Linked DNA regions of Homo sapiens: region 2 is linked to region 1. The links come from fine-mapping of genetic effects on gene expression. A gene starts in region 1. The other region holds a variant in brackets. All regions are shown on one strand. Distances are between the middles of the regions.

Region 1 (4,403 bases):
GATGCCCATCAGTGGTAGACTGGATAAAGAAAATGTGATACATAGACACCATGGAATATTATGCAGCCCTAAGAAAGAATGAGATCATGTCCTTTGCAGGAAGACGAATGGGGCTGGAGGCCATGATCCTTAGCAAACTGACACAGAAACAGAAAACTAAATACCACATGTTCTCACGTAAAAGTGGGAGTTAAATAATGAGAACACATAGACACATCGAGGGGCACAACAGACACTGGGGTCTATTGGAGGGTGAAGGGCGGGAGGAGGGGGAGGATCAGGATAATAACTAACGGGTACTTGGCTTAATACCTGGGTAATGAAAGAATCTGTACAGCAAATGCCACAACACGTGTTACCTGTGTAACAAACCTGCACATGTACCCTTGAACTTCAAAGTTAAAGAAAGTCTTACACTTTTGGAAAAGAGGAAGCATTCCTAAACACTCAAGAAATGTGATAATTGTAGTTATAAAATATTTTGAAATAAATGACAAGAAGTGTAATTTTGGAGTAACTAAAAGGAAGAAGAATTAAAGCATAACAGAAAATAAAGAAATACAAAACCAAGAGACAAGAGAGGATTAAATATTTCTTTGAAAAAATTGGCTTTAGTAGACAAAGGTGTAGCAAAACTAATTATTAAAGCAGAGAGGGAGAAGAGGCCTAAATAAATGATATTAACAACAAAAAGGAAGGACGGTCAGGTGAAGTAGATATTTATTATTTGTTTATTTTGTTTTTATTTAATTGTGTATATTTAAGATGTACAACATGATATGACATTTAGAAATATCTATACATGCTAAAATGATTACTACACTCAAGCAAATTAACACAGCCATATCATATGGTTCTTTTATTTTGTATGTGTGCATGAGTGTGTGTGTGTGTTAAGAGCACCTGAAATCTGCTCTCTTGGAAAATTTCCAGTACGCAGTGGAACAGTATTAGCTACAATCCTGCTGTACATTAGATCTCTAGAAGTATTCATCCCACATAACTGCAGCTTTTGTACCCTTGGCCAACATCTCCTGACTCCCCGATCTCCCTGCCTCGGGTAATCACTCTTCTGTTGTCTGTTTCAGTTTTTTAGATTCCACATGTAAGTGGGATCATGTAGCTGTCTTTTTGTCCTGTGTCTGGAGTAATATTTGAAAGGAACCATGATGGCATACTACAGTAAATGTTTTGAATACATTTGAAAACCTAGCTGACATGAATAATTTTTTAGCAATGTATACGCTACAAAAATTGTGTTAGGAATACACAACCAATAGCCACTGAACAAATCGAATCAGCAATGGCCACAATCACCCCTCAATGTAAAGGGAGCCACAATTTGATGCGTAAGTCAACTGAGTCTGTGAAAGGGCAAAGCAGGCCGGGCGCAGTGGCTTACGCCTGTAATCCCAGCACTTTGGGAGGCTGAGGCGGGTGGATCACGAGGTCAGGAGATCGAGACCATCCTGGCTAACACGGTGAAACCCCATCTCTACTAAAAATACAAAAATTAGCCAGGCATGGTAGCGCGTGCCTGTAGTCCCAGCTACTGGGGAGGCTGAGGCAGGAGAATGGCGTGAACCTGGGAGGCGGAGCTTGCAGTGAGCCCAAATCGCGCCACTGCACTCCAGCCTGGGCGACAGAGTGAGACTCCGCCTCAGGAAAAGAAAAAAAAAAGGGCAAAGCAATCTATCCGAGAAATTTGTTACTAAAATCAGAATAAAATTTAGCTTTTGTATCAGTAAATGATATTGATACAATGTCATAAATATCCTCTTATTACCCATGATTTCCATTTCTCTTGTCATTCCTGCTAGAATTTCTAACTCACTGTCCATCTGTCCATCAAGTTCCACTGACTCTGTCCCACTTTCAGGAAGACTTCAATGTTTCCTAGAGTGCTTTCTTGCTCCGCTTTGACCGTGGGACTCTGCCTTGCCTCACTGAAACTGTGGGCAGGTATGTTCAGTCTCCCCAGCCAGATAGCAGGCTGCTTGTACATCCCACACGTGCCCAGCGTGGTGCTGCAGGTGGAGTGTGTGATTGTATCTAAGGCTGAGGAGACACTTGTGTATCGCCTCCCTCTCTGTAGTCACCAGCGGTTGTGATATTAAAGAGGCTGAGTCCAAAAGAGCATTGGGCCAAGTCCTTCCCTGCTGACTGCAGCCAAACTTGGCAGGCTGCTGCGTTCGGAGGGCCTTTGGCAGGCTGGAGGGCAGACGTGCAGAGAGTGCTTGCTTGCTGCCTCTGGCTGGCTGTGTGCCCACCTCACTCCGAGTCACCCACAGCTCAGGTTCCAGCCAGCCTGGGGCTTCTAAATATAAGGTGTGCTCAGGGGTCTCCCATCACGGACCTACCACTGGCCCTGCGTATGTGGTGCAGCCTCTCTTCAATCCCTAAGAACTGGTTCTTTCAAAGCATGTATTTTCTGAAGAAACTTTAGAACCACGTTTATTTTAAAAGAACGAATTGGAGAAAACAAATCGGTGAGTGACTACCTCATGGCTGAGTTAACACTTCTCTGACCTTTAGGTCTGTTTTAGATGGAGTAAGTTCTGTGCATTGTGTATAGTTGGATGTATAGTTTTTCTTTTTCACCTAAATGTACTACTTAATTGCATCTTTTTATTGCAGTATATTTGGTTGAACTTTTGTGTAAACATTTAAATTCCTTTTATCATATATTTATTACATGGTAAATGATAATACTTTGTAACAGTCACGTGGAAAAAAGAAAAGGAAACTCCCTGTTATTCATATCAATGTCTCTTTTCTCTGTCGCTGTTTCAGATTAATGCTCACAGCTTCTTGGGTGCTTTCTCACGGGTAAAGCCATGGCATCCGTACCTTCCATTGGTTGCCTTCTAGCCAGAAATCAGTATTATCGAAGTAAGTTGCATCATCATAGAGACGTCCCTAGATAATATGATTTGAGGTGATGTTTGTGGGATATTGTTAACACAGGTATCATGTTACCTTCAGAACTTAAGGGAGAGAACTATTGGTGACAATGAAGAAAGCAGGAGGCCTCAGGGACTTCTCTGATCCAGTGCTGACAGGCACTTCTTTGTTCTAGCTACGCTGTATCGTTGAAGCCATTGACACTTAAAAATCAGTGAACATCGGCTTATGTTTCATTAGTACATTTTAATTTTATGTACCTTGCATTCTGTAAGATTCACTAAAAACTGATAATTTTACATAAATAAAGTATTATTCAACTCCTTAGAAAAGAAAAGATAGCATGACTTTGCTTCAAAAATTTTCTAATTTCCATCTTCTGCTATGGATAATAGGCCAACTTCTATCTGGCCAGTTTTATTTTTATTAATCTATCCATCTGTTCATATTCATGGCCAAATAGAAAATTGTAGCTTCTTAGAGAAGATTGAGAAATTTCATAAAATAAAATAAGCATTTCAGAACCAAATTAGTAGTTATTACAAGTATCTATGGCAACAACACATAGAAAACTCTTCTTTCAAGGGTTGTTTGTAGTATAAGTGTTAGAGACAACTACTGATTTATTCATTTTACAAAAGTTTACGCTCATTTACTTGGTGTTATTTATCCACAGGAGTTACTTTTATATTCTGATCTTATAAGAGACATAGGTTTTAAATACAAGCCTAATAAGACAAAATGTTTGTTCTTTCCAAATAATTCCTTAATTTCTAGATTTGATGACTTCTGTAGAACTTTAAATATACATATATGTAATATTTCTAATGTAGTACAACAATATTTATTCTTGGTCTTGTTCTTTCTTAGTTTTTGAATCTGAAAACATTTATAATACATTTTAAATTCAACATTGATATCCAAGGAGAGAGTGAGTTTCCTGCCTTGGAAATGAGTATATCTTATCAGTAGAACATAGTATTTCTTAATATAGCAGCTTTCTATTGATTGGTAATTTGATCAGTTTTTCAATTCATGAATTCACAAGCCAGGAATAAATGATTTCAAACCATGCTACTTGACAGTTTGTATATAAATGATGCGGATTTGCTTGTCTGGTTGCCAGTTATTTATTTGTTTAATATCATTTGTTTCCTACAGAGTCCAGTGTTTCTTCAGTTAGTTCTTTAACTAGCTCTGATTCTGTTAACTTCATAGATGACGACAAACCACAGCAAGGTACTTAGTTATTTCTTTCAGTGTCATCCTTATTATTTCTTTTTATTTTCAATCTCAAATTTGTTTGATAAGGAGTAACATGAATTTTATTTAATAGGGTTGCCTGAAGTGGCAGAATCCACCTGGTGGTTTAAATCGTTTTTCCATTCTGAACCTGTGCTTTCAAATGTGAGAATAAAAGATCTGTCTGCTACTGGGTGAGTTTTAGCCTTCTCTGGTAAGGGCAGTTCTTACTTAGTGAATGAAATAATGCATATGGT
Region 2 (4,403 bases), 31 kb before region 1:
TAGCTTGGTGATCTGAGAACTGAAGTGCAGAAGGTTAATAACTTGCCTAATATTAAACAGCTAAGTGGCAGACCCAGGATTCAAACCCAGAGTCTGACTGCAGAGACTTAGTTTTCAAGAGCTGCCCTCACTCTTGAAGCCAGAGTCTCATCTCAGAGCCCAAGACCACCCCAGAGGACCCTGGCCCTAAACTGCTGTTGGCCAATAGCATGTACCCCAGCCCATCTACACAGAGTCTGAAAGAGCCTAGTGCAGGCCAGTGTCTTTCCTAATTGCAATGTTAGAATATCTAGGTCAACTGCTCTCAAAATAGATGTGTCATTGGGCTGCCCCTTTGTCTGCTGTTTACTTCTTCTAAGCACATTCTTCCTGGAAGTTGGTTGCTGTGGAAAATGGGCATAGTGCCTTCTACCTTGGATCATCAGCTAAGTGGCTAAAAACAGAGGTTGTTTGCAGAAACCCAATACTGTATTAATGCAAGGACTTCAGATGGGTGAGCTTGGTTATATGTTCAATCAAGGGAAGAGCATTTGTTTGTTTTAAGTAGATTAGTAAAGGGAAGTTATTCTAGCCTAAATCTTGTGGAATAAGTTGTTAGGTTCCAGAAACACTGTAATTAAGTCCAAGGTCACACTTAAGTCCCTCTCCACTCTTCGCAACTAAGGAAGCTGATGAGCACAAAAGACAAGCACCTCATGATCTCCAAAAAAAATCTAAAATCTAAAAATATCAAGCTCATAGTAGCAGAGAGTAGAATGGTGGTTGCCAGAAGCCAGGGGTTGGGGGAATGGGGAGATGTTGGTCAAAGGATACAAAATTTCAGCTGGACAGGAGGAATAATTTCGGATCTATTGTACAACATGGTGACCATAATCATGACGTATTGTATACTTGAAAATTGCTGAGCAAGTAGATTTTGTGTTCTCGTTACAAAAAAGGGTAAGTATGTTAATTAGCCTGATTTAGCCATTCCACAATGTAGACATATTTCAAAACATCATGGTGTACACCATAAATATATAGAATTTTGGTAAATTTATTTTTATTATTTTTTAATAAGAGCATAAAAATTTATTCTGTTAATTGACTAAAATATTTTATAACTATAGTTTTGATAGCATAAGTTTCTATGTTTTTGTGTATAATTTTAAAGAGGAAAAATGAAAACATGTTCGTATTTTGCTTAAAAGTTATCAACTTAAAGGTAAATACATTTAAAAGAGCATAATTTTTTTTCCTGTAACATACTCATTCTGTATCAAAGTTATTCTCTGTCCAAAAAGCATTTTTCAGCATTGCAGATGGAGTCAAGAGATTTTTTAAATAACTGTACCAGTCATGACTATGAAGGTATAGTCCTACTTCACCCTGATATGGAAAGTTTATTAACTGGAAACACAAAGTCATTTTTTTCCCTTGTTATGTCTGTCTTAGACTGTTCAGACTGCTATAACAAAGTACCTCAGATTGGGTAACATAAAAAATAGAAATGTATTTCTCACAGTTGTGGAGGCTTGGAGGTTCAAATTTAAGGCACCAGTAATATCTGGTTGAGGGCCTGCTTCCTAGATCAGACATGGTGACTTCTTGTTGTGTCCTTACATAGTAGAAGGGGCAAACATGCACCATTCAGGTCTCTTTTATTATTATTATTTTTTTTACCAACCTCAGATTATTCGTTTAATAACATCTTTACAGGTATCCATCATTCTTTTTTTTTTTCTTTTTTTAGTATTTATTGATCATTCTTGGGTGTTTCTCGGAGTGGGGGATTTGGCAGGGTCATAGGGCAATAGTGGAGAGAAGGTCAGCAGGTAAACATGTGAACAAAGGTCTCTGGTTTTCCTAGGCAGAGGACCCTGTGGCCTTCCGTAGTGTTTGTGTCCCTGGGTACTTGAGATGAGGGAGTGGTGATGACTCTTAACGAGCATGCTGCCTTCAAGCATCTGTTTAACAAAGCACATCTTGCACCACCCTTAATCCATTTAACCCTGAGTTGACACAGCACATGTTTCAGAGAGCACGGGGTTGGGGGTAAGGTATAGATTAACAGCATCCCAAGGCAGAAGAATTTTTTCTTATTACAGAACAAAATGGAGCCTCCTATGTCTACTTCTTTCTACACAGACACAGTAACAATCTGATCTCTCTTTCTTTTCCCCACATTTCCCCCTTTTCTATTTGACAAAACC[G/A]CCATCGTCATCATGGCCTGTTCTCAATGAGCTGTTGGGTAAACCTTCCAGACGGGGTGGCGGCCAGGCAGAGGGGCTCCTCACTTCCCAGACCTGGCGGCCGGGCAGAGGCGCCCCCCACCTCCCAGACGGGGCAGCTGCCGGGCGGGGGCACCCCCCCACCTCCCAGACAGGGTGGCTGCCAGGCGGGGGCGCCCCCCACCTCCCAGACAGGGCGGCCGGGTGGAGACGCTCCTCACTTCCAGATGGGGTGGCTGGGCAGAGGCGCTCCTCAGTTCCCAGATGGGGTCGCGGCCGGGCAGAGGTGCTCCTCACATTCCAGATGGGGTGGCCGGGCAGAGGCGCTCTCCACATCCCAGATGATGGGTGGCCAGGCAGAGACGTTCCTCACTTCCTAGATGGGATGACGGCCGGGAAGAGGCGCTCCTCACTTCCCAGACTGGGCGGCCTGGCAGAGGGGCTCATCACATCCCAGATGATGGGCGGCCAGGCAGAGATGCTCCTCACTTCCTAGACGGGGTGGCGGCCAGGCAGAGGCTGCAATCTCAGCACTTTGGGAGGCCAAGGCAGGCGGCTGGGAGGTGGAGGTTGTAGCGAGCCGAGATCATGCCACTGCACTCCAGCCTGGGCAACATTGAGCACTGAGTGAGCGAGACTCCGTCTGCAATCCTGGCACCTCGGGAGGCCAAGGCAGGCAAATCACTAGAGGTCAGGAGCTGGAGACCAGCCCAGCCAACACGGCGAAACCCTGTCTCCACCAAAAAATACAAAAACCAGTCAGGCGTGGCGGCATGCACCTGCAATCCCAGGCACTTGGCAGGCTGAGGCAGGAGAATCAGGCAGGGAGGTTGCAGTGAGCCGAGATTGCGGCAGTACAGTCCAGCCTTGGCAACAGAGGGATACCATGGAAAGCGGGAGACAGAGACGAGGGAGAGTGGGAGACCGTGGAAAGCGGGAGACAGAGACGACGAGGGAGACGGAGAGGGAGAGGGAGTGGTAAATTTAATAAATAAATTTTTTAAATGAAGCTGATGGTTAGAGCTGGTCTTTACTCAAAGCATCAGCATATTAAAATTTTAATCACAAAATTACTTTAAAAATGTGTGTGTGTGTGTGTGTATGAAATAACCTAAGTGGATAGATTATTTGTGTCATTTTAAATACTCAGTCTTGTTGAGAACTAATGTTGAACCAATCTTAGGTAGTTTTAAAATCACTCATCACTGATTTGGAAACAGGGAGTATTAGCCCTTTTAGGAGCCCCTGTGTTCTGTTAAAGGATTTAAGAACGAGGCATCAGAAGCACCCATCACTTAAACACAGTGAAGTCAGTGCAGTGCTCAGCTTTCAGGCTGTGCTGGGGATTCCCAGGGGGCTTTTAACCCAGCGGGCCAGTCAGGGAGGTGCCTACCTGGGGGAGATGAGCTTCAGTAGTTAGGCAGGAGTGATCAGGCAGGATCATGTGATGGGCCACTTTTTGTAGGTCAAAAATCATCAGTTTTGCATAGTTCAACCTAATCATCAACATAGTAGTATCTGGACAGAGGACAGAATAGGAGCAGGCAAATGTCTTATTGTCCCTTTCCCATGGTCTGAGCTCAGGATGTGCCTCAGGGTCCTTGGCCTCCATAGAAGCTCACTCCTCTTTCCCCCACAGCCTGTGACTAAAGATGTGGGGTGACTCCTCCTCTGCAAGGGACAGGCTTTTGTTCCTTGTTGAGCTACAATAGCAGTGAGTCTTTCTTCCCTTGTCACAGGTGTGGGCCACGTGTGGCAATAGTAGGAAGAGGAAAGGGAAAACCCCATTAAACGATGGTTGGGTACTCATCCAATGTCAAGAGCAGATGCTGGTGAACTCATGCGGTAGTCATTGCATAATGTGTCTACACACAGGAACTGTAAGCCTGTGGAGGAGGGCTTCTCACAGGAGGCCAACAGATCTCAGACCTTGTTGGCGGTATGATTATGGCTTTAGGTTGCCATTGATATTTGAATAATTTTAATTTCCAGCTTTTACATAGTAACTGCCCCCACGACTGATTGCTTTGTATTTTGTGAACTCGATTCATGTGTTATCTCTCCCAAAGAGCTGCAACTTCCCGAGAGCTTGGGGACTGTTATATTTCCTTGCACCCCCAGCACCTACAGAAGGAGAAGGGAAATGAGGGAAATAAATGGCAATCTAGTGCTAGCACCAGCTATACAGTCTAT

The links. PIP is the estimated chance that this variant, and not a neighbour inherited with it, causes the effect. A credible set is the group of variants that fine-mapping cannot tell apart.
Region 2: its variant is the best candidate, but not a certain one, in a credible set for the expression of PPDPFL in skeletal muscle (GTEx, PIP 0.61).

Annotation. Positions count from the first base shown.
Region 1 is chr8:49,069,994-49,074,396 of GRCh38, forward strand. It overlaps PPDPFL (pancreatic progenitor cell differentiation and proliferation factor like), which reads left to right and starts at 2,351. Exons shown (of 5, transcript NM_001256597.2): 1 at 2,351-2,489; 2 at 2,794-2,892; 3 at 4,066-4,143; 4 at 4,241-4,340. The coding sequence starts at 2,838.
Region 2 is chr8:49,039,177-49,043,579 of GRCh38, forward strand. No RefSeq gene overlaps it. Among named protein-coding and RNA genes, the nearest start is that of PPDPFL, 31 kb to the right of the region's middle. The variant G/A (reference allele first, on the strand shown) is at 2,193.